6 separate regions of the Homo sapiens genome follow, and regions 2, 3, 4, 5 and 6 are each reported to be linked to region 1. The links are microRNA targets in miRTarBase. Many come from high-throughput screens and were not tested one by one. Region 1 holds a microRNA gene; each other region holds the end of a gene's coding sequence.

What was found. The annotated mature microRNA hsa-miR-7156-3p reads CUGCAGCCACUUGGGGAACUGGU and lies in region 1 at 1,416-1,438, shown strand. An mRNA with a match to its seed (bases 2 to 7 or 8) in the 3' UTR can be bound and repressed. Matches are read on the target gene's strand: a 7mer-m8 pairs with bases 2 to 8, a 7mer-A1 pairs with bases 2 to 7 and ends in A, and an 8mer does both.
Region 2: the mRNA of TMEM109 is a reported target of hsa-miR-7156-3p. Seed matches in the 3' UTR shown: 7mer-m8 at 3,892-3,898.
Region 3: miRTarBase lists ARL14EP as a target of hsa-miR-7156-3p. The part of its 3' UTR that is shown has no 7-base or 8-base seed match.
Region 4: miRTarBase lists DST as a target of hsa-miR-7156-3p. The part of its 3' UTR that is shown has no 7-base or 8-base seed match.
Region 5: the mRNA of OPHN1 is a reported target of hsa-miR-7156-3p. The part of its 3' UTR that is shown has no 7-base or 8-base seed match.
Region 6: the mRNA of CAB39 is a reported target of hsa-miR-7156-3p. Seed matches in the 3' UTR shown: 7mer-A1 at 3,249-3,255 and 7mer-m8 at 3,060-3,066.

The regions. Positions count from the first base shown.
Region 1 is chr1:77,058,765-77,062,764 of GRCh38, forward strand. MIR7156 (microRNA 7156) reads left to right here and starts at 1,379; the gene lies at 1,379-1,438. All of the region lies in intron 4 of ST6GALNAC5 (ST6 N-acetylgalactosaminide alpha-2,6-sialyltransferase 5), which reads left to right.
Region 2 is chr11:60,921,086-60,926,650 of GRCh38, reverse strand. It overlaps TMEM109 (transmembrane protein 109), which reads right to left. Exons shown (of 4, transcript NM_024092.3): 4 at 3,208-4,877. The coding sequence ends at 4,486. TMEM132A (transmembrane protein 132A) reads right to left here and starts at 2,191. Exons shown (of 11, transcript NM_178031.3): 1 at 1,918-2,191. The coding sequence starts at 2,017. LOC124902676 (a long non-coding RNA gene) reads left to right here and starts at 1,254. Exons shown (of 2, transcript XR_007062688.1): 1 at 1,254-1,432. RefSeq lists silencers at 1,546-1,615, 1,656-1,875, 1,936-2,295.
Region 3 is chr11:30,335,393-30,340,957 of GRCh38, forward strand. ARL14EP (ARF like GTPase 14 effector protein) reads left to right here. Exons shown (of 4, transcript NM_152316.3): 4 at 1,175-2,831. The coding sequence ends at 1,403. Among named protein-coding and RNA genes, the nearest start is that of ARL14EP, 15 kb to the left of the region's middle.
Region 4 is chr6:56,453,884-56,459,448 of GRCh38, forward strand. It overlaps DST (dystonin), which reads right to left. Exons shown (of 104, transcript NM_001374736.1): 104 at 4,113-5,384. The coding sequence ends at 5,122. Among named protein-coding and RNA genes, the nearest start is that of COL21A1, 210 kb to the left of the region's middle.
Region 5 is chrX:68,044,135-68,049,699 of GRCh38, forward strand. OPHN1 (oligophrenin 1) reads right to left here. Exons shown (of 25, transcript NM_002547.3): 24 at 4,282-4,323; 25 at 1-3,029. The coding sequence ends at 4,290. Among named protein-coding and RNA genes, the nearest start is that of NXTAR, 260 kb to the left of the region's middle.
Region 6 is chr2:230,817,718-230,823,282 of GRCh38, reverse strand. CAB39 (calcium binding protein 39) reads right to left here. Exons shown (of 9, transcript NM_016289.4): 8 at 5,386-5,529; 9 at 2,208-4,767. The coding sequence ends at 4,579. Among named protein-coding and RNA genes, the nearest start is that of ITM2C, 44 kb to the left of the region's middle.

The DNA of each region.
Region 1 (4,000 bases):
GAGCTGAAATAGTCAAGTCCAGCAGCTTGGATGGACAATAAGTCAGGTTGTGTGCTGAAAGCCAGGCAGTGGACTGTCTCCCTGGGTATCAGATGCTCCCTATCAAATGGGAGCTGCAATACTTGCCTCAGAGGGCTGATGAGGATGTAAAGGAGATCACATCAGTTAAGCGCAGAAGCTGAGCAGGTACTTACAAAATCAGTTGTCTCAAACTTAGCTGCATATTAGAATCTCAAGGAGCTTTCCACCATTTGAATCTTCTAAAAAGCTTTGTTGTTATGATATGTATTATTTAAAAATATGTTTATTTTTGTTTCAAATAATTTTAGAGTTACAGAAAGGTTGCAAAAATAATACTGAGAGTTCATATAACTTTTATCCAGCTTCCCCTAATGCGGATTTGCATTCCTATGGTCCAATTATCAAAAGTAAGAAATTAACATGAGTATAATGCTCAGCTAAACTACAGGCATTATTGAGATTTTACCAGTTTCTCTACTAATGTCCTTTATGTCCTCCAAGAACGAATCCAGGTTCCCTTTGCATTTATTTATCAGGTGTCCTCAGTCTCTAAATCCATGGCCGTTCCTCAGGCTTTCCCTGCATTTCATGACACTTTTGATGAGGACTAGTCACGTATTTCATAGAATGTCCTTCACTTGGGGTTTATCTAATGTTTTCCTGTGCTTAGATTGAGGTTATGCATTACTGAGAAGGATACCACAGAAGCCATAGGCCCTTCCCAGAATCTCATAACAGGAAGTATGTGATGTCCATACGTCTTATTACTGGCAATGTTAACCTTCATCACTTGGTTAAGGTAATGTCTGCTGGGTTTACCTATTGTAAAGATAGTATTTTTCCCTTTGTCATTAATAAATAACTTGGGAGAGATACTTTCAGGTTATGCAGGTAGCCTATTTCTCCTCATCTTTTTCCCCATTAATGTTCTGTTCATTTGGTGCATCTTGCCTGCGACAATTACTGCAACGTTCTGAGGATGGTTTCCTAGTCCCTCATTTTTTCTACATTGTTTATTGGAATTTTTCTGTCTTGAAATGCTGTTTCTTCTCCTCCATTTATTTGTTTATTTATTCAGTTATTTATTGAAATTATCATGGACTCATGGATATTTATTTTATTTTATTGGTTTTATAATCCAATACTGACATTGTTTATTTTGGTTCAAACCTAAGACACTTTCTAAAATACCTGTGCCTGAGTTCCTCTCCAAGTCATCCGAAGCAGAGTCTATGGGGTTGGAGCATAGGTATTTCCTTAAAGCTCCCCAACCGCACTAAATGTTAGTTCCCTCACTCTCCCCACCTGCTTCCTCTAAAAAGAAAAAAAAATTCTTCCTCAAATCATTCTGCAGGGCTTGTTCTCAAACTGGCTGTCAGAGTGTGCATGGCAGGCTGCAGCCACTTGGGGAACTGGTTCTGTGGTTATCTCCATTCCTGCCTCCCCAGCCCGCATATCCTTTCCTTCAGCTCACGGGGCCCACAATGGGAACTTGAGTACCAGAATTCCTTTTACAACTGCTTCCTCATGTGGAAATTCCGCTGAGGTTTATTGTAGTTTTCACTGAGGTCAGGTGAAGGAAGAAAAAAACTAGGGCAGTCTTTAGAAAGTCAGGTTTGAGAAAAGACCCAAGGAAGTATGACCTTCAGCTAGGAGTGTCTTTCTAAATGGCATAGTGAATTTAGTGAATTCCAGCTGATGGCAGGCTCACAGCTGGGGTAGATGTTCCTGCAGTTTCCAGCGCTGCCTTCTGAGTCCCAGAAAGCACTTTTCTGCTGCTTGGACAGAGTTTTAACATGTGGAAACAACTCGCTTACATGAATAACTTATCTTGACACCTCTGAAATCACAGTAACCAAATATGTAAATTTAATTCTCTTTTTAGGGGATCAATATGGAGTCAGATAAGTTTTTTTTCCAAAGAGATGGTCTTCCTGAATAAGGAAATTGATCCTGTAGCATCTTTAGCTGGTTTCCAATTGCCCCCTACTCCTAGGTGCCGAATCAATCTTATGATATTTTTAGAAACCTAACTGTTTCTTTAGTCAGATTGATGCCAATAAAATGTCCAAAACTTAGATGAATCAAATTTAAAGTGATTTGTGATGGAATAAAAGCTTAACCCCAAGCATACCATGGCAACATGAAATTGGCATGGTTCCCCCAAATTATGCCATATGAATATGGGAAGATATGTCTCACAAATTCTTATTTTTTTCTTCATAGTGGTCAGCTTCAACCTGAATTTTTGTTAGAAGGCATTTTTTGTGTTAAAAACACCTTCTATTAAAATTTTAATGGGATTCCAATTTCTAGGGTAAGTAAATTAATAAAATCTGCAATAACTAGTCAGGAAAGGATCCAGTGTTTCACTACAGAACATAGAGATAATTCCAAGACGGGCATATTAGAGATGCAAAGTGTTAATTCAGCATAGCATCCAAACCAGGATAAGGAATGTTTAGATGCTGCATGACAAAAATAAATCTCTCTTCCTGGAAGAACTTTAACCTAAGAGGAGAAACAGCTCAAAGGTTTATTGTTGTCAGAGCCAAAAACATGACACCCCTCTTGATAAAAGACTTCGATCCCTGACCCCAGTAGAGTTGCTACTCTAAAAGCTATTTGTGTATTGATCTCCTCTGAAGAAAACGAATAGGTGTCTGGCAGGATGAGCATCTTTGGGAAACCAAGTTATTATACTTAGAGGAGAGCCCAGGTGACCAAAGTGGGAACCCTAGGGCATCAGGCTCTGAAAGATGATTTGCAAGATGCTGGGAAGCCTGGGCCTTTTCTCTTCTTAGTCTCTGCAACAAGGCCAGTTGCTGAGCATAGCTCAAATTAGGAAAGTTTGTCTGCCAAGAAACCTTGACTAATCTTACCATTCATTCTTCAAAAGACAGAAGAGGTGGGCTAGACTGGCCTGTTTTAGAAACCAGTCTGAGACCAAGACTCTTTAGTGCGTAAATATTTATTAACCCTCAAACAAGGGCACCTACCACCCCCACATGTTAATCCTATGCACACCATCTTGAAGAAATGAGCCAGTACTTCCTGTTTGAGGCTGAGACAGAGATATAGAGGCAGAAAAACACTCGGAGACTCTCAGGCCACCAAACAAGGACTGAGGATGTAGAGTTTCTGGACTAAAAGACTGTAGACTTTGAGTACATAGGCCCTCTGAAGCATCAAAAGAAAAATCGTGGCCTCTTGTTTGCTGTCTTCCTTTTTCTCCCATAGGATCAAACTAAGATCATCAACTTTCCAAACTCAGAGAAGAAATTTGCGTTTAGCTGCTAATTCCATATAAATTTAGAAGTTTGCTATTTAGCTGCTAATTCCATATAAATTTCTTTCAACAACATAATTTTTAAAATTATTTATTAAGCACCTACCAGGGACTGTTCCAGGAATAAGACAAAACACTGCCCTCATGAACACCCAATAAACAAGTAAACAGCAACAACAATTCCAGACAGCAATTGATGCTATAAAGAAAATGAATTCAAGTGAGATGAAGTGAGGGGAGCAAGTGTCAGGTAAGGCCTCTCAGAGAAGGATATTACTTGAGCTGACACCCAAAGGTGAGGAGTGAACTCAGAGAGGGTATTCCAGGCAAGTGACCACCATCAAGTGCAAAGGCCCTGAAGTAGGGATGAGCTTTGTAGAGTTGACCAGAAAGGCCAGTATGGTGGGAACATACTGGGAATCCACAAGGCTGGGTGGATTAGGAGAAGACTTAGAAGGGGAGCCACATCATAATGCATCCCAGCAGCCATGCTCTCTGTATAACTGGAAGCCTCTGGAAGCTTAGTGGAGTGGGGAATGGGAATGACATATTTTGTTTTGGTAATATCTCTGCAGCTGCTTATGGTAAATAGACTGTAAGAAGAGTGAAAACAATACTATTGTTGTGACTTATTAATATGTAGGGTCTAAATCTGAGGAGACTGAATGTTCTGCAGCTCATTTTCAATCT
Region 2 (5,565 bases), not on the chromosome of region 1:
CGGGCGCGGAAGGTGCTGAAGAGGTCTGTGAAGGCACTTGCTTGCCCTGGGGGTGGGGTGGGGACCAGGAGCCTGGGGAAGACAGTCAAAATAGTCAATCATCAGAAGGACAAAGGAGCACTAAGCCATATTGGTTTGCTCTAACTATGAGCACTAATAATAATAATTAGCATTTTGTGAATGCTATATGCAGGTGAGAATTTAAATACTGTATGTATATGAACTCTTTGAGTCTTTGTAATAATTCTGTGAACCAGGTTCTATTATGATGAATCCCATTTTGTGGATGTAGAAAATGAGGCCGAGAGGTTAAGGTATTTGCCTGTGGTTCCACAGCTGGAGAGTGAAGGAGCTGGGGGTTGATCCCAGGTATTAGCCACTAGACCATCCGGCGTCTCCACCTGCCACTTCTCTCTCCACTCTCCACTGCCACGGTGCACCCTGCAGGCTTCATGCCCTGGAGCGCACCTCCTCTCCTCTGCTCTGCCCGGTGGCACCTCCCTCCTCATTCAGGGCCATGAGTGAATACTGCCTCCTTCTGAAGGAAGCCCTCCTTGGTTACTCACCTTCCCACCAGTCTCCTGTCTTTTGCAACCCTGGGTGCCTCCTCTGAATTAGTAATCTTCCTATAAACAAGGGACCCTGTCTTGCTCATCCTGGAATTCCCCCAAACTAGGAAGCGCTCCCTAGAGAGGATTTCCTGGGAGCCTGGAGACCTGAATTTAAATTGATGAAACTTGGGTCAGGCATTAACATTTTGAAGCCTGTTTCCTCACTTGTAAAAGGGGCAGGAGCATTAGGTGGCACTGTGGACAGGACAGGGCTGTGTAAACTGTGGAGTGCTGTCTGGAGGGAGCAGGCATTATTGCTGCTGCATAATGGATTTGACAAGGTTTTCCTCCTCTCTCTATTAGGACTCCCATGGCGTCCCTCGGGATGGGGAGCAGGTGGCTGAAAGCAACCCCACAGCTAGCTCCCTCTCAGCCCCACAGCTGGACTGTGGGTGGGGGTGGGGGAATTGGTTTCAACCTCCTTCCTGGCCCTCCCCACCAAGGAGCATATGACTGACAGGCTCTCCCTGCCCCCTGCCCCAAGCGTAACAAGTGACCACTGCTCTCTGGGGGCAGCCACTGGCTTCAGGTTCGCCTCCTACTCCATTGCCTCCATAATTACAAGATGCTCTTAGCCTGACTCCCACGGACTCCCATCACCCAGCGCTCGGCTCTCTCGGTGGGGAGGGCAGAGAATGTTTCACTGTCCCTCTGTCTTCTGTGGCATCCTTTGCCTTGCAGCCACAGCCCAGCTAGCCCAGGCCAAGGGAGTCCGACCCCCACCCCGAAGCACAGGGAAGTTGCTGCCCTTTCCCGCAGTGACAGGAATCCTCTCAAAGGTTCTGGAAGGCAAGGATGCGGCCATCCCTGGAGACGCCAAGGTCAGGGAGCCCTGGGGGAAGGGGGAGGGAGGGCTTGCGTCTGTTGCAGGTCCCAGGCAAAGGGGCTGCTTTCCACTCCCGAGGGGGGTGGGTTGGTGGCGGCGGAAGGAGGCTAGGAGGGTGCAGCGCTACAGACCACAGTGAGGGAGTGGGGATGACGCTAGTGCGCCCGGGACCGGGGCCGCCGGGTTCGATGCCCGGGCTGAGGGGTCCCTCGCAGAAGGTGCGGGACGGGGAAGCCCCTGCGCCGGGCTGCCCCGGGTCAGGAAGGAGTTGCCGGGTCGTGCAAGGTGAAGGAAGCCTTAGGGGCGAGTGGCTGGGGGCAGGTTCCCGAGGGCAAGAACTCTCCGACCTTCAGGGCGCTGCGGGGCGACCCCGCTCAGGGTTCAGTCCGAGAACCCAAAGGTTGGTGGCTCCCGGGCATCACTCGCTCCCACTCGGCCGGGCCCGGCCGCCCCTCGCCCCGGCCCTCCCCTCCCGCTGACCTCTCACGACGTCCAGGGCGAGGGCCACCAGGAGGCAGAGCCAGGGGCCGTAGGGCCCCCGAGGGGCCGCTGTTGTGCGACCGGCCATCCGCGCGCACATCCTTCCCACAGAAGGCGGGGACGAGGCGGGCGGCTCAGGTGGCCCCAGTCCCGCACGGCATCTCCCGCACCCGCTCCGCGCCGTCCCCACCTGGCCCGCTGGGTCCCGGCCGCCGCCGCCGCCGCCGCCGCCCGCCCCGCGGCTGCAATTCCCAGACAATGGAGCGGGAGCAGTGGGGTGGGAGGGAGCGAATCGCAGCACATGGGCTGCCCCCTCCGCCCCGCCGGGTCCTAGTGCCCTACGGATCCCCAATCCCTGCGCGCTCAGGCGACCGAGGTCGGGAAGAGGGCCACGTCCCTGGAAGCAACAGAGGACGGCCGCCTCTGCCAGGAGGGACTCGGTGAGTTCTGTGTGGCTCCCTCACGGAAGCTTCTGATCAGGGAAGAAAAAGCCACTTTCTCTGCCTCACCCACCCCCACAAGCAGCTCACTTGTGAAGGCATCTGACACCTGAGTCAGAACCAGAATTCAGGGACACATGGGACGGGAGCTGCAGGGACAGGAAAGGAGGGAGGGGGTCAAACGGGGCCAGATGCCAACCACCTGAGCCTGCCCTGACAGAGCTAGGCCACCGCCGTGGAGGAAGGGCTCTAGGTGCAGGCAGCTCTAGTCTCTTGACCAGCTCCACCTGGGCAGCGTCCTGCAGCGCTTAGGAGGGTTGAGGGTTGCCCAACACTCCCGAGGGAAGGCCAGCCTCAAGGGTCCTGACCCAGTGTTGCCTACCAGGCAGTTTGGGGAGAGGCCCAGAGCAGGGGCCCCAGCTGCACACTCTCATGCCCTGGGCAGCTTACAAAGAAAAAATTATGTCTGAGGCCCTCCGCAAAATTGGTCCAGCCTGTGGGCCGACTGGAAACCTTGGCACAGGAAAGTCCTCAGGTGGGTGGTGAAGGGGAGGGCAGGCAAGTCTTCTCCAGGCTGCCCACCCACCTCAGCACACTGCAGGGAAGGGGTGACCCCTCTGCCCAGCAAGCACACGCATTTCCAGCAGTGCCAGTCGTTCCTACGTTTTGTAATGGGGGCATGCTTTCCTAATTCCTTGTGCTCCTGGAGGGAAGGGTACCTGGTACCAGCCTGCCTTTTCAGCTCTCCCCTCTGCCAGCTTCACACTGCCCCCACAGGGAGAAATTGGGAGGCGGAGCTGCACTACAGAAATGGGTTTAGCAGTAGAGGAGACATGGAAGCAATCCAGACTTGGAGTAAATACATTTTATTCAGAACAAGATAATAAAATAGCGTGCACTTTATTTAAAACCAACCAAGCACTGATAAAAAATATATATCACTGCAGCTGTGATTCCACATCAAACCTGAACAGTAAGAATTGGGCATTTATTCTTCACATCATGTGCCAAGCCTGGCAGAGAAGGACATCCACCTCCACTAGAGCCTCAAAGGAAAAGTGGCCCCTAACCACCAAGACAGGGTACCCTGGTGGAGAGGGGCAGCTGGCAGCTCACCCTGCTCTCTGCAGACCACGTGAAGGGAAAGGAGCTGCCTGTGTTCCTCCCGGGCTGCCGGGGTGGGCACTGGTCAGCAACTCCTTCTCGGTTTCAGGTTGTGGAGCGATGGGGAGAGAAGTGCATGCAGTTGTGCAGACAAGGAGGCGGGTCCTCCCTCCTCTTTCAGGGTCTCTGAAACCCCCACAGGGCATATAATGCCCAGCAAGGTCCCACTTGCAGGCACATGCCTACAAAGCAGCAGCCATCTTTTGCTTTGGCTGATGGGGAATCAAGATTCTGAGAGTGACTGCTCTTTTCTTGACACAAAGCAGCCACAGAACACTTTCCTACATACAGTATGGCAGCAGGCAAGCAGAAGGCCCTGCTGGCTCGGATTAAGGCACTTGAAAGAGACACAAGGTACATCCTCCTCCCCTGCAGCCCCCACAGGCCTCAGGGGACCCTGTTTCCCCACCCTTTATCCTCAGGTCCCCTTACCCCTGCCCCTCCCTACTGCTGGGCAATGAGGAGGACAGGAGCGTGCCTTAAAGGACCATGGTTTGGTGGGAGTACAGGGTAGGAGGATGAGGAAAACAAGAAGGGAGCTGGAGATTTGGCCAAGGAGCAACTTCAGAAGGACAGGAGAGCACGAGCATTAGGAGGAAGCCAAGGCAGCAGCAGAGGGAAGCCAGTTAAGTCATGAGAGACCAACGGCAGTGATGTTTGCTGGCGCAGATGCAGAAGCCAGAGGGAGGCCCCTCCAACCTTCCCTGGTGAGGCAGGCTGGGAGCAGAGAAAGGGTTAAGAGAGCCAACCCCAGACAGAGAACCTCAGAAGACAGGGCCGCAAGGACAGGCAGGGGGAATGGTCTTTCTCTGTTTCTCTTGGCTAGTGGGGCTGCGGCAAGGATCAATGTTCTGAAGGTTCAGAGACAGGGCAAGAAAAGGGCAGGGGGCTGGCAGGAGGGCTGCATGGCCCCGAAGCAGCTCAGCTCTTTGGTATGACACTGGCGGTGTGTGGGGCATCCGGCTCACTCCTCCTCCACACTGCGGGCCCCCTTGGCCGCTCGCCTCTGGCGCCAGCGCAGCTCCTCCACCTGGCGTTCCAGCCCTCGCACCTTGGCCTCGAGTTGGGCCCCAGAGGCTCGGGAGCCAGTGAGCCGGCTCAGCAGGGCGTAGAGGATCAGCAAGGCCAGGAGTAGCAGGGCCCGGGTGGAAGGGTCAGGCACCGACCTCATCAGGGCCACGAAGCCGGCCAGGAAGATGACAAGCTTCAGGCCCCACAGGATCCGCCCCAGCAAGGCCAAGACCAAGCCGAGGAGCAGAGACAGCAGCCAGTAGACGACCAGGGCCCCTGCTCCCCACAGCAGGAAGGTCTGGACCTGGCCAGGGCTGAGCTTCAGGCCCTGGGCGAGGTAATCACCTGGAAGCCAAGAGAGTCACAGAGTCAGCCAACCTGGAGAAGTGGTGAGGGGAGAGCGGGGCAAGAGCTAAAAGGGTGGGAGGTGCTAGGCACATTGCAAAGGAATAAGCCGTTCTCGCAGACTCAGAGTGATATGGGTTGGAATCTCAGCTCTGTTTCTTGCTGGCTGTGAGGCCTGGAGTAGATTACTTGCTTCTGTTGAGCTGCAGTTTCATTTACTAAACGGGAACAATTCTACTGCCTCCCTGTACTGTGGCTGGCAATTAAATGAGATACTACAGCTCAGCACGATGCCTGATAGGAAGTGAACAACTGGCACGTGGTGGCGGAAGTTCTTTTTTAGGGGGTCTGGGTGGGACAGGGTTTTGCTCCATCGCCGAGGCTGGAGTGCAGTGACGTGATCCCGGCTCACTGCAACCTCTACCTCCTGGGCTCAAGCGATCCTCCCACCTCAGCTCCCAAGTAGCTGGGACAACAGACACACGCCACCATGCTTGGCTAATTTTTTATAGAGACGAGGTCTCATTATATTGCCCAGGCTGGTCTCAAACTTCTGGCCTCAAGTGACCCTCCTGCCTTGACCTCCCAAAGTGCTGGGATTACAGGCGGGAGCCACCACACCTGGCCATGGTAGTTCTTGGCTTGCTCTTTGGCCATGTCTCTGCAGAATCCTGGGAAGGGTTAAGCA
Region 3 (5,565 bases), not on the chromosome of region 1:
TGACTCCAATTTTGAACATTCTACTGTAGGTAAAATGCTATCAAACACCATCACATGCTACAGAGAAATCTTTTGTAAGAAGAGTCCACTGATGCAGCAAACTTCACTGTAGTCTTTAAGAAATTGCCACAGCTACCCTAGCCTTCAGCAACGACCTCCCTGATCAGTCAGCTGTCCTCACTGGGGCAAGATCCTCCACCAGCAAAAAAACTACAACTCATTGAAGTTTCAGATCATTGTTAGCATTTTTTAGCAATAGAGCATTTTTAAATTAAGGTACATACATTTTTTTCTTAGACATAAGGCTGTTGCACACTTAATAGGCTATAGTGTAAGCTTAACTTTTATATGCACTGGAAAAGCAAAAAAATATATATATATATATGTGTGTGTGTGTGTGTGTGTGTGACTCACTTTATTGGGGGTGGTCTGGAACCAAACCCACAATACCTCCGAAATGTGCCTGTAATTCATATATCTCCGTTCTATGGGTAGCAGCTAAAAGGTAATTACATTTTATGAGAATGCAAGGTTTTTATTTTTTACATGTCTGAAATAGAAATGCAGTTCTGTATAGTCAACATAATGAATGGGAGAACTAAATTGTTTAGAATATGACTCTAAAACAAATGTTAATATAATCATTCAGAATTTTTTTTCTAAGTTCAGTCAACATTTCTATATATGCCATGTATTCCATCTGTTAAAATTTACCATTGAGTCATTTAAATATTTTTAGGCCAAATTTACTAGAGTCCATTAAAGAACAAGAAACATTAATTGTAGTATAAAAATCTATAGAGGTGGTATACTATAATAAAAATAAAACTGTGTTGATAAAACAGTGAAGAGGTTGGTAGCTAATAAAGTGAACCACTATTAACCTGTCATTCTTTTTTGTTTGTTTAAAGTAAAGGGAAAATTATGCACTTCAAGAAGCGTATTCAGAATTTTTAGATTTGTCTCAACACTCTATAGAGTTAGGTCTCCTCTTCTCACATGGAGTTCATTTACTGCTGACGATAGAATAAGCCTTGAGCCTGATAAATTATAGATGATTTTGGCATGACCTCATCTAAAAATATTTTATCTCCTTTTTTTTTTTTACTGTATTTTCAATTAAATCAAAAATAACATATTTATGAGGTATAATTCATTGTGTTTTATTTTACAGACAAGTGATACCAGCAAAGAGTAAGGTCTATGATAGCCAGGGTCTCCTGATTTTTAGTGGGATGGACCTCTGTGACTGCCTGGATGAAGACTGCTTAGGATGTTTCTATGCTTGTCCTGCCTGTGGTTCTACCAAGTGTGGAGCTGAATGCCGCTGTGACCGCAAGTGGCTGTATGAGCAAATTGAAATTGAAGGAGGAGAAATAATTCATAATAAACATGCTGGATAATCTGCGGTACCAAACTATGGAGCCTTTAAAGGTCTTTATTTCTAAAAATCTGTTACTCTAAGATACATTTTAAGCTTGATTATCATATGACAAAGATTTTAAAACCATCTCAGTGTGCCCTAATTTTTCATCTTGGGTGCTTTAAGATTCACTATTTGATATAAATTCAGATAGGCTATTTTTCAGTAGTCAGCGTTAAGCCTGTCTGGATCAATATAAACAAGTAGGGTGTAGGCAGTCCTCTATTTGCATGTTTCCCATGGGCACAAATTTCAGTGACCTAGATTTAGTTTAAATACCAGTTTCCTTACCAGGAAGGAAAGAAAACTGGTAAGGAAACTGTTGTTGTTAAAATCTAGGTTAAAATTTTAGTTAGCACATTGTAACTGAGTAATTACATGAAGTACAAACCTCTCTGCTAGCTCTTCAGTCTACAAATCGCTATGTAAATAACAGATATGCTTCATGATTGTGACCAGTCATGTTATTTCTTTCAAATTCTTCCAGTGGTTTGTCCCTGTGCATCTGTTAATTCAGTTCACGTACAGCAGAGCATGTAGTTATGCTGTCTCTCTGTCATCTACTTGACATTCTATAGAAGTGAACACTCGAAAGAACTGGTCAACAAAGATGAAAGTGCAGCAAAGCAATGAAAAATGATAACACTGGAAGTGAAATTTTAATCAAACATAAATGAATTTGTAGAAGAAGTCACTGACCATGGGAATGTTGTTCTTGCTGCTGTGTATTCATAGGAGCTTAGTGAAGGCAAACTTACCAACACAAATAAGCAAAGTGGTTGCAATAAAGACAGATACGTCCCAGAGGAAGTGATGGTTAAAAAAAAAAAACTTTACATTAAAAGATATTTAATGTGAATATAGAAATATTTCACAACATTGAAAGCACAAGCAATAAAAGGGTGGAAGCTGACCCAAACTTAGAAGGAGTATGGCAGTTTGCCGTGAACATAAAAGATGCTTACTCAGTATGGTAAGTTACTTGCCAGAAAAAAAGGCAAGCCCTATTCAAACTACTTTGTTTTTACAATGAAATAAAACACTTTAATTCTATTTCTAATGTTTTAAATTACAGTGTACTAAATATTTTTAAACATTTTTGCATTTTTTTCTACATTTATAACTGGTCTTAAGAGTTTTTAATATTTGAGCAGAACCTTAAAGGTCATGGAACAATCATCATTTTCCCTATTGATTATTAAGATTGCAGGACCATTTTTATGGTCCCACAGTACCATGTGAAATGAGGATCGCTTGTAGCTGGGAACAGTGCTTACTTCAGGGAAAACTGATTTTGATAGAACCGACTAGTTGAGTATTAAACTGTTTTGGAAATAATTTATATATCTAAGTGCTGAAATATATTTCTCTTCTCCCCACTTATTCAAATAAAAAAGTTTTAATACTATAAACTTTTCATTGTTAGCGCCACGCAGTCCTTGTCAAGATTGTTCTGGGGGACAAAAACTTGATGTATAAAGCATGAATATACACACAGTACTTAAACAGATACCATATCTGTGGTATTAAAATTTTGGGGGTGGTTGATTAGGATTGTAAAAAGACTCCTTAGGGAGTGAGGATGGAAAAGAGAAACACTGGTTAATACAGAGTATAAATAAATTTTTTGGAAATTGATTGCATCTTGATGTTGGAATTTGCTTGGATGCTATTTGGAGGATGGGGGAATGGTATCGTCTCTTTGCTTTTATTTTATTTTTTTTTGAGACAGTCTTACTCTGTTGCCCAGGCTAGAGTGCAGTGGCTCAATCTCGGCTCGCTGCAATCTCCATCTCCTGGGTTCAAGTGATTCTCCTGCTTCAGCCTCCTGAGTAGCGGGGACTGCAGGCGCGTGCCACCACGCCCAGCTTATTTTTTTGTATTTTTAGTAGAGACGGGGTTTCACCATATTAGCCAGGATGGTCTTGATCTCCTGACCTCATGATCTGCCCTCCTTGGTCTTTGCACTTTTTTAAAGACAGCTGTCATTTTGTCTAAAAGCTTTTTGTCACATGGGACATTGCCACTAATCTGGGTTTTGGGGGGTTTTTTGCATCCTAAATACAGTCCTTCAGTTAAATCAAATGTGCTCTTAGCAATTTGAAAGATTTTGTAGCCATTAAAACTCAATTTATGCAGCCAGTTTGAATTGACCATTAGAGGGTTTGTTTGTTTTTTAATTTTTTTGCTTTTAAAATGACTGGTTTTACTTTGAGGGAATGGCATATTCAGCCTTGGAATTACATATTTTTAATAATTTTAACTGTTCACTCACCTGTTACCAGAAGTACATACAGTTAGCTTGTCAGTTCCTTGATCTGTATGATTTACCTGAACACTGGCAAAAGAATATTTCAGCTTTATTCACTTAAGTCAGATGCTAGATTACTTTCTCTAAAGTAAGGAAATACTTCATTATTGAGGACATAAACACTCCAGTTTTATCTGAACATTAGGATCATTAGATCTTAATTGTTTCTACCATCTTTTAGTTTTTCTAAGTATGACAGTGCTTAGGCTTTTCGTAGGGACAAATTAAAATCAGGTTTTTTACTTAAAATAGGAATATTTTTGATGGAATGAATGACTTTAAAATTGCCATATTGCAGCATTTTTTAGAACAGACCTGTAATTTTTCAAAGACTAATACGTTTTTCAAAGGAAAATATTCTTGAGCAATTTTGCTAATATTTGTTCATCATGCCCATTTAGGGAAGCAAACTTTTAATGAGCATACAAAATGTTTACAGAGAAAGGTGTATCTGATTTACAGTAAGCTGTAATAAAGCTATGTTTTGGAAAAATTAAATAATGAGCCCACTTACTATTTTGTAATATAAAATTACAGAAATATGGAATATAATGAAATCATCTAGAGCCTCTTTATATTGTGCATAAATATTCCAGGTGACTATAAATTATTTTAGAATTAATCTAAAAAGCAAAGTTTTATAAACAATTTCTGTTGTGTGTAGATCCTAGTAGAGAAGTTAGGTCACAAATGTTGGTCTCACACAATGTTGGTCACAAATATTAAGGTAGAAATGCATGTATATATTTGAATAAAATGTCATCTCGTGATCTTTTCCTTTTTTTTAAAATATGGAAATAGCTATTTACCTTGTAACATCATATATAGGATTCTTCTCTTTTTAAAGTATTATGTTTAGTTCTATATAACAGGCTGTTATACAACCTGACAGTCTACTCTAAAACTGCCTCCCTGGCGTGATTTCAAGCAAGTAATTTTTAGCAAGTGAATTTTGAAATATCCATATATATATATACAGTGATTCATTATTAAAAACATAATTTTAGTGAGTTCTATTATAGTCTTAACTTTTTGGAAGTAAAAGACCCCTGTGAGAAGGTGATGAAAGCTATGAACTAACTTCCCAGAAAAATATCTGCATTCATGTACTCACAAATATCGATGTTCAGAATTCCTGAACATGTATTGCAGTACCTGGGTAGTATGAAATATTCTGTAAACCATTTTACTTTTTCAGTTGAGTATGGCTAAAGTGTCGGTTGGTTTGTTAAATAGTGTTGTGGGTGGCTGTTTTCAAGAAAAACAAAACCAGAACAGCTCAGTCCTTGAGCTATGACTGCCCTGAAAAATCAGATCCCACTGGCCTCATATACCCCTTCCACCTCCAAAAGGTGATTACACATTGAGTCACAATGTAGAAAACTGATGTCTTATCTGGACTGGATTTTGGTAGAGGTTTTCTACCTCCATGATGTTTGCCCTGCTTATAGCTTAACATTCTTGTGCAAAATTCAGGACACTGCCTTAGTTTTGCTGACATCTGGTATCTTCATGAAAAAAACTGCTCTCAGCTATTACTACTTTCCTTTAATCTCTTAACTTATAAATTTAACTGTGAACATGTAATTATATAATAACCTGCTGAAGTGGATGTTTTTCAAAATCAAATGGTTTCTCTATCATTCTTAGGTCTTGCCCAGCAGCAGTCAACCATATTGGGTGTTAATTTTCAAGAATGTGAGTGAGGATACAGAAATACACACAGGCAATTCTGAGTCTCTTTTCACTTATTTTTATAAAGTGGAGGTACTTGGGAAGTAATGCTCTTATCTATTTTTTTTAAATCATGAAACACAACTGAATACTTAGT
Region 4 (5,565 bases), not on the chromosome of region 1:
AATGGTCTTTATGTTAATTCATTTTTAACTCATGCCCAGAGACATTTCTGAAAGTATATACCAAAACACTATATTTCTGCCTCCTTGAAAAGCCAGAGCTACACACACACATACCGCTAAGCCTACTTGGGGCTTTGAAGCACAACCAACTGCAGCTGAAAGGCAGGCTCTTGTACTCTCTCCCTCACTCTAGGGACTATTATTGCTTTCTCCATGCAGATTCTGCTATAAGCACAATAAAAATCAATGAAGACTTGGAACAGCTAAGACTAATATTTAAAAAAACGCTGAGGCTCCCGAAGTTCACATTCTTGCAAATTTTAGATAATGCCCCAAATATAAGTCACTCTTGATCATATACACACTCCTGTGTGTGCAAGCATAGTGTTCTAGCTTTCTACCACTCTGACCCAAATACTCACCCACGGTGTGCCTTCCTCCCAAATCCTTTCCTCTGGGTACCCTAAAACCTGCTTCTGAGGTAAAAGCCCATCCTAGAGCCCCCGCTTCCTTCCATTGCTCTGTTGAGCCTGACTGAAGAAACCAACTGTAGATCAATGAACTTTCTGTCACCTCTCTTCCTAAACCAGGCCATACACTGGAGGCCAGGATAACTATCAGTCCAGGGCCTTGGCTACTTCTAACCTTCTCTGGTCAAGTCAAAAATCTGTCTTCCAATTTACTGAGATAAATAAAGAGTGCAGGGTAACTCCCTCAATGTCTCTTCTCCCATTTCAATCTCCCTTTCCTCCAGTCCTTCATATCAAAAGGCACGTCCTTCCCCATAAGACCAGTTCCTCCAAGCTGATGTCTAGAGGAGAAGACATTGAAAATGAGGAAATCAACAGATGGTCGTTGTAGTAATACAAGTGAGAGGTAACAAGGGCTGGAACTAGAACTGAGGCTTCAAGAATGTTAGTATGTCCCCTCAGCCTCCCTCAACTGGAATTTTCAGAGAACCGGCAATCAGTGATATAACCACTAGCACAGGTGTGCATGCCCTTGCAAAACTAGTATCAGAGGAGAAAGGAAGAAACTTTACAGCATACTTCCATTCTCTGGAAAAAGATGGTTGAGAAGAGGCAGAAAGAAGAAAATAGTATAGAACAATGATCCCTAAAATTAGATTATGTAAAGTAACTTCATAGAATGTTGGAAGAAAATGTCTATTTATATTTACATTTCATCTTAAAAGAGGAGGAAATTACCTTTACTAACATTTACTACAGACTGACACTGCTACCATCTCTCCAGTGACATCGACATCGTTTGCATCTTCTCACGATCTGTAGCTTAGGTGACCCAAGGGCAGAGTGGAAGTCCCAACAGTTCCCACACTCTTTGGGTTGCTTTTAGCATGCAGCAAACCGAAGTTTATTTATGTCAAGTTGGGTGAATGTACAGATTTTTATTAACTCTTCTGAATTAAATAATCTTTACAAAAAAAAAAAAGGCTTAAACAGATCCCTGCAACAGAACCGTGGATTTAAGATGTTTATAATGCAAGAAACAAACAAGCAATAAGAAAAATGGCAGAGACAACGCTTCTCCTAGAACAAAGGAGTTAAATATCAGGCGTTAAACCAGAGAGAATCTCATCTGATTTGGCAAAACTCAGCCACACCAGGAGTTAAACCAGAAAGAGTCTCATCTGATTTGGCAAAAACTTGGCCAAAATAATTATGAAGACTATTTGAACTAAGGATGTACACCAATGTTGTTAGGATAAATTTTAAGATTAGAGTGAGCCCTGAGAAATTAGCTAATGATAAAATATGTGCAAATAATATCTTGGGATAAATTAATATATATATATATGGGGGTGTTTGCACAGAAAAACTTTTACTGATAAGAAGATGCCAACCAAGAAGTCTAGAGGCCATTGGCATAGAAGTTGGAGTCTAAGGCTGTGGGAACTACATTTCCTAGTCTTTGCGCTGGGGCAAAAATAACTGTACTTTAAGATTAGTAACATTCTAAAAGAATGTTTTATTTTTATTTGGGGGAAATTGTTGAAAACTTCTTAACCTCTATTTTATTTTCTTCTCTGTTAAAGTCTTTTAATTTGCAATAATGAAGTATGATAAAAATGTGGGTAAACTAATATTATTCCCTTAACACACTTTGCTTTACATATATTCTTAACTTAGCACATGAGAAGTAGTAGCAAGAAAAAAAAGAAACCTATTTTTGTTATACTTCACCCTAGCTAGACACTCAACATCTACATAGACGTTAAGAGTTACATAAAATCAACCAAAGTTGCAGAGTTTGGTAGGTTAAGTCAGATATTTCAAATAGTCATACAAACTATTTCCTGCCCAAACACCTTGTCCTTTACTCTACTGACTTCCAAGCAGATTTTGGTAACTGACAAGTCCATCCTCAACATGCCTGAAAGGACCTTAGTTACTAAAGTATTATACTAAAAGACAAAGCTCAAGTGTCTTTGCCTTCTTTGTGGGACCCCAGTGGCAGTGGCATCAGACATACACAGACAAGCAGGCATGGCAAATGTACTGTTTGGTGGTATCAGATCACCATTTAACAATAAAAACACACATTTCAAAGCACCTTGTCAAAAAGGAATAGATAACTGTATCTCATTACAATTTCCCTTACTACAAATACGGAAAGCAACTTTTAAAATGATCCAAAAAAGGAAACAAGATCCTTTCTTCTCCTCCGCCTCCTTTTCATTTTACAGGTCAATCCCGGACAGCCATGGGGGCACTTCCCAAACTCTCCCACCTATATCCGAGACTTGGCCAGGCCCATCTACTTCTGCACGGATGTCAAAGAGGACAGTCCACTATTTCCAAAGAAGGTAGCAGTACATGCGAATTAGGAGCTTTGATTTTTAAAACAAAAAAAGTCCACGATTCAACTTCCCTAATGCTTAAGATTCAATTTTTCCAATTAAGATTTTTAGAGTTGAGATTCACTGTAGTGTTCTTTTTTTTAAAGAAAAAAAAAAAAAAAAAAACGAAAAAAAGAAAGAGAAAAAGAAAAGAGAAGGAATGTGTGTAGGGTGGGGAAGAGGTTTCTGTTACATTAACTGAAACTTACAGGACACTAGAGAAGTCAGCCTGAGGCTCTAGGACTATTAGCACAAGAGGAAAGAAATGAGTAGGCATCATGTCAAAGTTTGAAAAGCTCACCTGGGGCAAATACTGACAACTGGGAGCAGTTCCTTAAGACTTCTCTTATTTTAAACCACTTATCTTTTCCAAAAAGCTTATTTTACTACTTAAAAAGAAAAACCCCTAGCTCTTTCGGAGGGGTAGCATAGAAACAGACTGAGATAAAAATCATTGCCTTAAATTTGTCTTTGAAGTGGAAATGTGATCATATGCAAAGCACTAAAGGAATAAAAACAATTTCAATTGCCTTCTAAGATGACATGTTAATAATCAAATGCATGAACTAAATAGCATGTGATCTCATAGGTTAGAATTCCCCTTCTCATCAAGGGCTCCCACCTGAGACCCATGCCTGGACAAAGAAGGGATTACTATTGCTTAAAAATAGCACCTAATTTATGCCAATAGAAACTCCAGGCTCTTCAGTGTTGGCCTCCACTGAAAAGGCCAAGAAAGAAAAATGTAATAATGTTCCCTTGAATCTGAACACCATCAGTGACATTTGCTACAGCAAATCCACAAAGTTATGCAGAATGTTGGGACCCTCATACCTAAAGTTACAACCTGCCATCCTTCTGAGGATATCTGATACTATTTTCATATTCAGGAAAATTTTACAATTTGACTTTTAAATGTACAGAGGCCAGAAGAATACTACTATATTACCTTAATTAAATCTGTAATCCTGCCACACATCCCTTGCTTTTTAGTGACTTATTAACTGATTCCCTCTTGAAGAGGGGAGGGCAGGAACCTTATAGTTTCATGTCACTTACAATGGCTGGTGCATGGCTAATACTTATTAGAAATATTTGTTGAAAGAGTGGTTAACATTATTATAACTCCCTGTTTTTGATGTCCCCCAAATTTACCCTATTTGTTTCTTAGTAAACATATATCATACATATAACCTTTATTTAAAACAAATAATAGAAGAAGTTCACTTTAAATAATCAGGTATTCCATATATTCAAGTGAATATGTTTTATTAAATGCATACTAATATCTTTCTATAGTATGTGAGTACACATAATAAATTAAAATGTATATATTTATTAAATATAGATAGATATAATACCAGAACATGATTATTTCAGATGAGAAATCAAAATAAACCCATTTTTAAGTATCTTTTGGTCACTCCAAATTGATATTGCTCATAAAAAAATACACTAGTTTTCCCTGGGGAAAAAAAATTAATTCCATAGCAATGCAGTTAAGGGACGTGTTTTATTTCATAGCTTTCTGCAAGCAAAATTGCTCTGATACAAAATGAGTTCAATGATACAGGTGCTACTGTCCACTCAAGCAAAAGAAAACCTCACATGTATATGAACGCACTTTATACTTATATTCTTACAGTATAATAGGTCTAATATCCAGGATGCCTCTGGCCTCATTGAAAGCAATGGCAGAGAAATGCTGCAAGGTACTTGAATATCATAGTACTGGCAAGTGCTTGAAGTAACTTCCTGTGAGTTCTCTGTCAGATACTGCAAAGACTGCGTGTGGGTGTGTTTGTCTTTTTGTCTTCCATCTTTTGGTTTACATTTAAATCATCTCAAAAAATATCCCCTGCATGTATCATTCAGCTTCTCAGAGTTTCCATAAAAACAGGAAAATGTCATGAGGTATCCCTAACGTCAGGGATTGATGTAGTGCTGTGGCTGTCAGAGAGGATGTAGACTTACCTGTAGGTACAGTAACTGAGTTTAGTGTGTGCCCGGCACGTTACAGTGCAGAAATGTTAGTTCATGTTAAACTTTTCCTCCTCACATATGATGTGACTTTAACCCCAGAATATCTGACAAAAAAAATTATACAGATAAAATAAAAAGACAAATACACAAATAAGGCCATCTGCAGAATTTTAAACTCGCCTCTTGCAATATTTCACAAGAATTTCTACACCATATTTTACATCGTTCAAACTTAAATAATAAATGCTCAAGGAAGGGCCTTGGTAGAACCAATTGCACTATCTCTTTGAGGACTTGTCCAATTTGCTGGCAGGTGATTTCCTCTGGGGCGTGGGGATTTTTGAAGGCTTCGCTGTGGATGGCCGAGAACCTGCTCGGGGTGTAGGTCTGTGTGTCTGGGGGACAGTTTCCACATCTGAGCACACGGACTGGATTTCTGAAATGTCAAAGTCTGATGCATCACTGCCTCGGCGGCTGCTGGCCCTGCTGCCAGCTTTGCTTCCAGCTCGACTTCCTGGTCGGCTGGGAGTCTTCTTGGAATCTGAGGAAAGAAGGTAGAGACAGCTCACCCTTATTATTGGGTCCATCTGCAACTAATTTTTGAAACCCGATGCCACCTTTAATCTTAACTTTTTTTCCTGGTGTGTAGTAGGCACTCAGAAAACAGTTGTGGATTCACAGCCTTTCTCTATTACACAAGGGTATGCAGGCTTACTCTAAGT
Region 5 (5,565 bases), not on the chromosome of region 1:
TCCATATAAACTGAACCTGCACCCCCTCCCTCCTTCAAATGTTTGCCTTTCAATATTTTGTTAGGCAGGCAAGAGTCAAGAGTCATGCCAACTCTAGTAATGTGGCCTCTGTTCAAACACCTACCACAGTGTGGCAAAGGGAAAACAGCATGGGCTAAGAGTGGCCTGGATTCAAATCACAGTCCTTTTATTTACTTTCTATGTGCCCTTGAGTTGTTTACTTTAGCCCCCTGGGCCATAATTTCTTTCTCTGTAAAATGAGAATACTTGCATGAATATGAAACACTGAGCAGTTAATAAATACGTGCTTAATAAATGTTAGGTTCTTTGTTATCCCTGCCAGTTCATCACTTTCAGTTCATCCATTGCCAGATTCTCTAACTTGCTGGCCAAGGTATGTTGATAATTTCCTATAGCTGCCACTCTTCTATTATCACCCTCTTCCCATAGCCTCTGCAAAATGACTGCCCATCCATTAAGCCTAGGGCAAGCCAGTCTCATTCCATGATAGCATGCCTCGCCACAGAAGCTTTTTGCACTTTAAGTCAGAGTGCCAAAGGCAGGCGTTGAAATTCATTCTTTGGCATTCTTAAGGTATAGACCAGAGCAAAGGCAGAGCTACTCAGCCACTGCTCCCTGGCCTCCAGGCAGACTGCTGGTCCCCAGCTCTCCAAGATAGGCCCTTGATCTGTGTCCCAGGCAACACACAGCAATCTCATGACATTTCTGGGACATATTTTCTACTGGGATCACAGCAGCTTTCTAGGGCTCTCAATAATCTTCCAATGTTTGCATCGGTGATTGTGGTATTTTCCCCCAAGAAAACCAGAGTCAAACCATGTTTCTTTAAAGGGACTGTGGCCCTATTAGCCATGCTTTCATGGCCAAAATCTGCACACCTGTCTGCTTTATTCAGGATAGAGCAGGGAGGCCACAGCCCTGAAACAAGGGCTCAAAAATCACTTCCTAGGTGAGGTCAGTAAGGCCTCACAGAGACTACTATTGGGGGCAAGCAGCAGGTGAAATGATGGTCACTTGACTCTTTTACTCCTGGTTTCTTAGCAACCTGGCCTTTGAGACTGGGTACAGTGGAGTGAGTTCAACCGGGCCACCTGGATATGCCTTGATTTAGAATGGCATCAAGTTTCCACTCAATTACTTTCAAAAAGGCTCTCAGTGTACTTGGCCTTACATGTTCCTAACTCACCAATAAACCATGTTTGGAATTCAGTCTTGAAAATGACTACTGCCTTTCAGTAGCACTGTTCCAAATGCATCTCTGAGTGGGTTTGCACATGAGTGTGCATGTACTCACTCTCTATCTCTTTATCTAGGTTTATCTGTCAGTACTATAATCAGTGCACTAACAGGGCCTTGGTAGAAGAGTGCAAGTAGGAAAGCTCTTTCCCTCACACTGGGCAACATTATAATTATACAGACGCTACAGACAAGCTACGGCCCAGGCATCTGCATAGAAACAAGTACTGATGCTCTTTCCAGCAACTTCCCTTCAACAAACAGGAATTAGAAATGTCCATTCCTCAGATTTCTGCCCCATTACACCAATTTTTAGGTCCTTTCCAATAATAGAGATAGCAAATGAAAGGGACCTGGCAAGGGTTTATGTCCTAACATTTTTCACTTGGTGGCAAATATTCAAGAAAAAGGGTAAAAGCCAACCCCCAGAAATGATGGCCACTAAAGCCACAAACCACAAGGTCCCTTGCTAGATAAGTGTGATATAATGGGGAAAAAAAACTTGCATAGGAGCCTGGGACCTGAGATCTTGTACTGGTGTGATCACTACCTTGCTCTGCCTCAGTTCCCCCGACTGGAAACTGGGCAGTTGTTAGACTAAATGATTTTGAAAAGCCCTTCCAATCAAGGGCTTATATGGATTGTAAAAAGAGTATTTTACTCAAGTGCTGTGGTTCTTGACTTTTTTGGGTCACGAGCCCATTTGAAATTTAGCAGAACATTATGGACTATCTCCCCAGAAAGGGCATATTGTCATGGAATTGTGCATACCATCTCAGGGGCATCATGGAGTTTCTGAGTCCATGGACACTGGGTTAAGAACTGCTTTTTTCAGGAGATAAAAGAGTTTATGTGCAGAAGGCAAACATGAAGCAGCAGTGACAGCTGCCTGGCCTCAATCCACCTTAACAATTTTTCTAGCATTTGACCCCAAAATAGAACTCCTACAGGACCAAACACAGTCTCCTTTTTTTAAAAAGAAATGTGTTCAGCTTTTGTTTGTTTCTTGATTGCTTGACAGGAAGCTGTCAAAAAAAAGGAGAAAGAATAATCCAAATAGACCTAGGCTTTTACATGCAAAACATGCTTTGCAGATTTGTCCTAAGTGGCTGCATGTAACAGCAGGAAGGCCACCTTCCTAAGTCCACATGGAGGTGCTGTGGGGGCATCACTCATCCCACTCATAGCCTCGCAGGAGCAGACGGGCTCTTGGCAACATACTGCAGCACCAGAGCGCTGACATGGCACCAGTGTCCATATCCTCAGTAGGAGACATGTTGAGATTCTCCAATGTTCAGCAAACATTTCTATTCCCTTCCAACCAAGGTAAGCAATGGCCCCAACTCAAGTGGCCTTCAGTTCAAGGTAAGACCCCTGAGATCAGTCTTTAGCCCCAAATCTCTCAGAGTTCAATGGCCCTCTGAGGAAGCAGGAAGTTCAGGGAAGAGTTGAAAACTGAGCTCCCCTCTTCAACTCAGGTAAGTGGATATCTTGGTTTTGGCAGAGTCTGGCTTGAGGGAGTCCAGCTCTTCACAGTGTTATAGGAACTCAAAACAGACCTTCTGAGGGGATGAAGACAGAATACAAAGGAGATATAAACACCTGTCTAGGACATATGCTCCTTATTTTATGGCCTCCCAGAGAGAGTCTGAAAGTGCAAGGCTAGGAAGGAGCTGCTCTTCAACACAAAATGACTCCGCACACAAAGGTTTGAAGAAGAAAGACTCTTTCAGAACCTGGAAAGGGTCCTCTGAGGCCAAGGCTTTTAAAACCTGAAAGAGAAAGAAGAGAGTAGGGAATTAGCGAGGACTGGTCAAGTACTTAACAGCCACTGATCAGTGGGGCTTCTCTTGGTAGGTAGCTAAGCCTATAATTGGTAGCTCATCTTCTGAGCAACAGCGGATTGCTGGGCAAAGGCTCTTACAAGTCAAATCTCATGAAACAGGCCTAAGATGGTGCTATGACCAGGGCTGGACACTTTGTGCCTTTGACCTCAACTCAAACTCCCCAAAATCTACATGGAGAAATAGAAGCCTGATACTAGAACCTCTGAGATTTCTTCCCACATCATGCCCACTGCCTTTATGGTCATACAATAACTATAAACTTCCTTTTAACAGGGACTTCACCTCCATAGGGGCTGATAAGGAGAAGCTTATCTACCCACGGACCTCTGAGGACTGGCAGTGACAGGGAAAAAAAGAAGGTTAGGGAGCACATGAAAAGCCAAGCTCCAGATACTTGGATCTCATTTATGTGTGTTATCAGGTCACATCATGCCAGCAATCTGATAGTCAAACAATCAGAACTCCTATGATAGAGAAAGGAATTTCCCTGACCTCTGAGTCTCCTGTGACCTTTGCAAGTCACTTATCCCCTCTGAACTTCAGTTCCTTTATTTGTTGAGTTAGAACACATATTATCCTCCCTTCTCCTGGCATGTGATATGCATCAAATGAAATAATGAATGTGAAAGTGCTTTGCATTGGACAAACATAAAGGACTAAGAATGAAGGTTCAGGTGGGTAAGACTGAAATAATGATTTGGTCTGCAGGAATGAATCCATCTACAGACACTAAGGTAGCCTCTTGGCATCTGTTATAATATCAGAAAGCATGTTCCTGGTTTCCTTAAAGGCCCGAGAGGTGTCAGAGTTAGAAGGTTCCAACCTTCTCATTTTAGAAACTGGGAAACTGAGGCTCAGAGAAGTAAATGTACTTTCCCAAAATGTCACAGCCTAGGATTCTTAATAAATTTGATTCAAAGGCAATCTGTAAAAGCGTGCCATAGTTTGGCTAGGAGAAAAAGAAATGAAAGAGGAAGGTTACTTAAAATCACACAAAACCTTGGAATTGAAAGTCACTAAATTTAAGGGTCAGGCAGTGATAGAGTAATGAACTGAGGCGTAGAAGTGAGTTCCCACCCTTCTGATCTACATGTTATTCCAGTCCTCAAAATATCAGATCCCGTAATGAAGGCTTATGTGGAACAAGATTTTGTAATCAGGGATGGGGACTGCATACCTGTAGCCTCAACTTTCATCTCCAGGAAGTCTGCCTTGAGAACTGTGGATAAAGAAAGACGTTTCACTAAGATTCTAGAAATCAGGACTGGAAAGGTAAATTGGGGGAATGGGGGACACTTCTAGGCCAGTGCTAAAGAGGCCATTTGAAAAATGGAGAAGTGATTCAGCCCAGATGTTTCAAAACATTTAGCTCCATGCTTATAGTTGGGGCTCCTTCTCTGGCAGGCTTAAAGAGATGTGAAGACATCTTTCAGGTGCCAGAACAATTCTCTGAGTACCAGACTATGTGAAGCTTGGAGAACCCAGGGAAGCTGGCTGCAGACCACGAACTACATTCTGTGATGATCTCTAACAGGGATAAGGGTGAGGACACAGACAAGTACCATGTGAAAGATGAATCCTCCTTTGCCTAGAAGACCAAACCAACCTTGTCCAGCCTCTTGATGTGCTTGGATTAGTTCTAAATTACCCATGTCTGGGGACAGCTTGGGGAGGAGAAAATCTTGGCAAATGAAACCCACTCTAGTGTGGCCAGAGCATTACGTACAACAGCTGGTCCCCAGGGCTATGTCCTCAACCTTCTGTTTTTCTCTTCTCTCCAGTCTGTTTACACTTACTCCCTGGAGGATCTTATTCCCATCCATGGCTTCAATTGCCACCAAATACTAGGGACCTCCCCACAACAGGCTACTATTCACATTGTAGCATATGTGACTAGCCCCACTCCCCAGACTTATATAGTGGCTATACTCATATTTCTAACCCCCAAATCTATGTATACATACATCCAGCTCCAACTGCTAGCCTAAGTTGCAGTTACCCACTGAACATCTATCTCTACCTAAGTCTCAAAGTGTCTTTAAAAAATTTGTATAAATTTAACAACTGTGTCTTCAAAATCACTGTGTCCAAAATTGAGCTCAGCATCTTTCCCATAAAACCTGCTTCTCCATGATTAATTATTGTACCATCTACTTAAGTGCCCAAGTTAGACTTTTCTCTTTCTCGGTTCATCAATGTTCCATGTTTGAAAATGTAGCAAGGTCTTATTGAGTCTTTCTCAAATCTGTCCCTTCTGTTCCATTCCCACTGGGAATGCCATAGGCCAGGGCTTCCCCAACTCTTGCCAGGACAATTAGTCTCCTTAACTGGTCTCCAGTCTTTACTCTCCCATCTATCTTTCCCACTACCAAAGTGATCTTTTTACAACTTGGTCAGCTCAGAATGTGACTGTCATTCTTGAAATTCTTCCCCCCTTTCTATGACTCATCCGCATATGGAC
Region 6 (5,565 bases), not on the chromosome of region 1:
CAGTTCACGGGGAAGAAAGAGGGAGCCATCAGGGGTGCAGTCTTGCCTGGAAACTTCCTCTGGGCAGAAGCCTCCCCAGCTGGCCTGCGGCTCTTCCTGCCTTTGCACGCCAGTTGCATCTCAAGGAAACAAGACTCAGCTACCAAAACTTAGTGCTAGACCATGCTGTTTCCACGGAACACCAATATTTAGGTGATAATAAATTATTACCAAGGGAAAGGGGCTCTTGTGAGCTAAAGCTCATCTGTAAAACCTGTCAATCTTGTGCAGAATGTTGAAAAAATGTCACTCTTTTCCAGAAATCTCTGGGGTCTGTCTTACTACTGAAGTGCTACCTAGAAAAAATAATAAAAATTTAACAAATTGCAAAGGATGAAATCTTCTGCATAGAAACCAGGGGGTCTGGCTGGGGGTGGTGGCTCATGCCTGTAATCCCAGCACTTTGGGAGGCCGAGGCGGGCAGATCACGAGGTCAGGAGATCGAGACCAGCCTGGCTAACACGGTGAAACCCTGTCTCTATTAAAAAATACAAAAAATTAGCAGGCACCTGTAGTCCCAGCTACTCAGGGGGCTGAGGTAGGAGAATGGTGTGAACCCGAGGTGGAGCTTGCAGTGAGCCGAGATCGCGCCACTGCACTCCAGCCTGGGCGACAGAGCAAGATTCCGTCTCAAAAAAAAAAAATAAAAAAATAAAAAAAGAAAAGAAACCAGGGGGTCACGGTCCTTGGAGATTTAGCTCCCGGCGGACGTGCCCTCAGGTGGAACCTACCCCACCTTCCAGCCACAGTGGGGACGGACACTTGGCTGCCAGTTCTCAGACATGAGCAAGGTTTTAGAGGACACTGTAAGGGCACACACAACATGAAGGCCTCATATAGCTGTGCAGTGACACAGCCTTGTGCAACCACCACCATCCTCTTCAGTCAGCGTGAATGCTGGTGGCAGGATTCCTGGAGGTTCGAAAGCTTAAGATCCTTATTAGGCACTTCTTGGGTCTAAAGTGCTCGGTGGCGGAGGTGTGCTGGTTGACCGCAAGCAGACTGTCAACGGGTGAAAGCGGATGGTATTCGTAGAGAAAAGCTCCAGTGGGTCTTTCTGCAGTACTGAGATTGCTGACTGGGGAGAATCTTACCCTGTCCTTCATGTCTTCTGGAAACCAGATGGTCAGTGAGGACACAGCCATGGCCAGGGAGAAGATTCCTGACACATCCGGGAGTACCTGAAGGGCGGTGTGTGCTGGGCTGCCCGCTCTTCCCCTAAAGGACAACTTTGGCACGTTGGCAGGTGGGCTTTCTCATGACCGTGAGTGGCTCTAACCTCCAGCATGAACAAGGTATTGGGCACTGACTGCAGCCTCAGAGCACTTCCCGATCAGGACCTTGTTGGAGCCTAACTAGGAAGGCTGGGTGAGAACTGCACTACTCCTGAGCTGCCTGAAGTGCAACGTTCTGGAGCTTCTTTGGCAAGGGGAGGAGGGCATTTGATGGGGGATTGTGGTAGGAAGTGGAATTTGAGCTGAAGCGTGAATCCAGTCCTCAGCCTGGTGATCCTTATAAGTGGCCAAGTCACAAGTTATGACTTAATGGGCCCTTGTCACCTTTGGGGAACTACAACGTACAAGTAGACTGAACTACTTGACAGAAATAACAAATAGGACATTGTTATTCGGATGAAGTGTTTTTGGCAAGAGCATGTCCCTTGCCTTCACTCCAGAGAATAAGATTTCATTTACTGACAGGGGTTAAAGTCGAGGGCAGGGCTGTGAACTAAGGATTACGAGGCACCCTGGAAGGCAGACGAGGGACATTCTTTACGGTGCCAGAGTTCTTGTGCCTGCTTCCACGGTCCCCTCGCCTTCATGATCATTTCACATCAGTAACCTGTGAATACTCCGGGCCGAGTGTTCTAGTTTAGCCTCGCGGTGTTGCTAACAGCGCAAGAGAGGATCTACTCCTCAAACGTTAGGGTCTAAGAAATGGTACCATTAAAAGGTGTGATTTTACTCAGGAAGGGTAAGGAAAACATGAGCACGGGGGCGGTGGGGGGGAAGTGAAGCCCCTGAACAGGGAAAAAGGCAGACAGGAATGGGTGTTAACTGTCCCTCCACTTTCAGTTGGTGATAAAATTCGGGCTTGTGTGTCTCCTGATGAAGCTGTTCACAGTAACACAAATGCAACTGTCTATAACACATCATAAAGACAGACAATGCTGTTTCTCCAAAATTTTATTTTAATTTAAATTACAGGGCCAGCCAGATATTCTGATAAGAAATTCACTTTTCCTTAGGAGAAAGAAAATGCTTTCATGGCATTGTTAACAAATGTATACATCTCCACTTTTTTAAGGGTTAAAAATCACATTAAGTAACTGCCTTATGTAAAATTAAACCTTTATAACACAAAAACCACTTCCAGTATAATAGTCTTGGTAATATGAATATATTAAATGATCATAACTTCAAATGCAACATTTCAAACTTAAATGTTTTCACATTGTTTTGCTTAAAAACAAAACCCACGAAGTCTGAACTACCTTCAGATTCCAATGTAAGAGTAACATGAATGTTGTGTCTGACACGCTGCACCCTCACTTCTTCCACCTAAAAGGCTACGACCTCACTGCCAAAGTGGAAGCTGTTCTAGATGTGTAAGTTCTAAGAATGAGCTTGGCAAGAAGACGTTTCTTCCACTTGGTGTAATCCATGTTTTTACACTAACTCCATACACACAGCACTACACCACAAAGCCAGGACACCACATCACGGCCAAGTCTTCCTTCCTAAACATCCAAGAGATTTTTTTTTCAAGGAGACTAGATTGCCTTATTTCACACAGATTCTGGTAAAGACAGTCTTGAGAAATGCCAATTATGATGTAGACTGCCATTTTAATAAAAATAAAATATATCTATATTTTCTGGAGCTATTTTCCTAACTGGTGTTCCTGAAGGTTTAAAACCTGCTGAAACAGCAATTGGGAGGCCCATTTTACTGGCCAGTATATAATTCCATTAGTAAGAGAGGCTAGCAAAGAATAATCATATCAATTTCTTAATCAGCTGCAGCCATGCTGAATTTGAACTGGCAAACTCTGATTTGTCAGTTGTTAGTTGTGATCTTCATATCACTAAAATGAACAGATACCATTCTAATAACTTTACATAGATATAGTCTAGAAGACATTGTTCTGCCGTGGTCACAGTAACAAAAAAGTGGTGCAAAATCAGTTACTTTATAAATACTGATAATTTGCAGCATTAAGGAACAGGACATTAAAAAAAATAAATTTCCCCATAGGACACCTATGACTAGGAAGTCGTCTTTTCCTAAGAGAAGCCAAAGTTTTAATTATTCAGTTCACAACTATTGTACTGGGTTACTTAGTCTAAGAAAGAAAAGGTGCTCTACAGAGATTTCCCACACACACAAAGAATCAGCATTAATTTAGCATAATCTCTATCATTCACAGATCTGGCAGATTCATTAACTCATTTAAAATGAATAAGGCCAATAGGATGCAGGAAGGTGTGGCTGACTGAGCTCCAGGGCTGTATCGCAGCTTATTGATGGCACCCCATTAGGTAACTGAATACAAAGGACTGGTTTACTTTCTTTTTCTTTTAATGCTGTGATACTTAAATGTTAAATCAGCATTTTCATGTGATCTGAAGTATTTCAATTACATATGAGCATTCATTGTTTTTTGCAAAAACTCAGTATTAGGTAATAGTTACATACTACTACAATAACATTCCTCTGCTGTACAAATTAAACCATTTAAAAGAAATGAGCATTCTAAGAATTATATACAAAAGAAACCTTGAAGCAGTGTTGAAATGAAATGCAAGGTGTCATTGCTAGCTCTACTGTTTTAAAGTATCTTTGAAAAGTAAAATTAACAAATACCCTTCAACATATCCAGGTTTACAAGTCTCAAGAAAATCAAATGTCAAAAAATTCTAGAAAGCTGTGAAAAGCATATATACATTTTCCTTATGATCTTATGAGGCTTCTTTACACTTTTAAGAAGTTGCTAAGTTTCAGTATCAATTTATTCGCATGTCAACTTTAGCTGCCCCCAAACTCCCATTTTGGATAGCTCCCCTCTGATTTCAGATAAAGCTCTGCGTCATCTTCCTTCAGCGAAGGTGCGCGACCTGAAGGTGCGCGATCTGACGCAGGGATGCCAGGTGTGCACTTGCCACACTGCACTCAGATCGCCAACAAAGATGGGTGCAAACACATAGGTCTAATCTGATATCAGTGCCCTCTTTCCTAAACCACACTCTCATCCATACATTTGCCTTCATGAACCCAGCCATGTTCAGAACTCCCGTAGCACAGTCTTTGAATTCTGAAATGACACAAAGATCAAGAGAAAGCCCACATGTGCCCTAGTGTGCAAGCAGCAGCAGCTACGATCTCCAACCTGGACTGAAAAACAAAAGGGTAAAATGAAAAACCGTTCACTTAACAGCAGATTAGCAGTAATGTTCCTCATGAATCAATAAGAGTGCCTGATGCTGAATAGCTAACAGCAAATGCTGAATTTGGATTTAACATAGATGTTTATTGGAGATTAAGCTTCTTGCTGAGCTGGTCTCTTCAAATCCCTGATCTGTTTAACTAAATAGGTCTTCTCGTCGTTAAACTGCTCATCCTCCGTCCTGTCGTTCTGAAACTTGCTGAGGAACTCTATGAGTTTGGCCTGGTTCTTGAGGAGGATGTCTAGGATGGGCTGCGTCTTGTTAGGATTGGCTACAAACACCTGCGTGGAGAGAAACGCACATGAGGCACAGAGAAAGGACAAAACGCAGCCACACCTGAGCTGCGGCCACAGTGCAGAAAAGCAGAGCTGTGCTCTCCTGGGATGGCGCTGAAGTCAGGGTCATTAGGTTTTGCTTTAGAAGGCGTTATTTTACAATTTGGAAAAAAAAATAATAATTACATGTTTTAACACAAATACGACTGATAAACTCATTCTGCCAGCCCTGCAACACAGTGTTTAGTATTAAATACAGACTTTGATTTTAGAATAAAATGGGCAGAAATTATTTCTCAGCACAAGAGGTCAGATGGGATTTTAAGAATGAAACCTCCACAGAAAGCATTAAGAAATGCTTTTGTTTTGCAGTTACTAATCTTCTAGGCCAAAGATAAATGACACTCTTCTATGAACAAACCTTCTCGTTCCCAGATCCAAACAGTAACCCGTTTCCAGGTCTACCTTTCTGTTTAAAAGTCATAGCACACAAATATGAAAAGTGACTGAATTTAATTAAGTCACCTGGATTACCAGAGTGAGGCTAATAATTTCCGTTATTTGCGAATGAAAGACGACGAACAATTCCAGTGGACAGTATCACTGATGCTTCTAGTACTCTACCTTAAAAACGTGAAAGGCCTCAAACTGGATGTTGCGACTTTTGTCTCGCAGCAGGTTCATCATTAATTTGAGGTTCTCAGGTTTACTGATGTATTTTGTCATAATTGTGAAGTTGTGTCTATCTAGTAGTAGTTCACCGAGAAGCTGAGAAGACATTTAAACAATTACCTTGTTATTAAA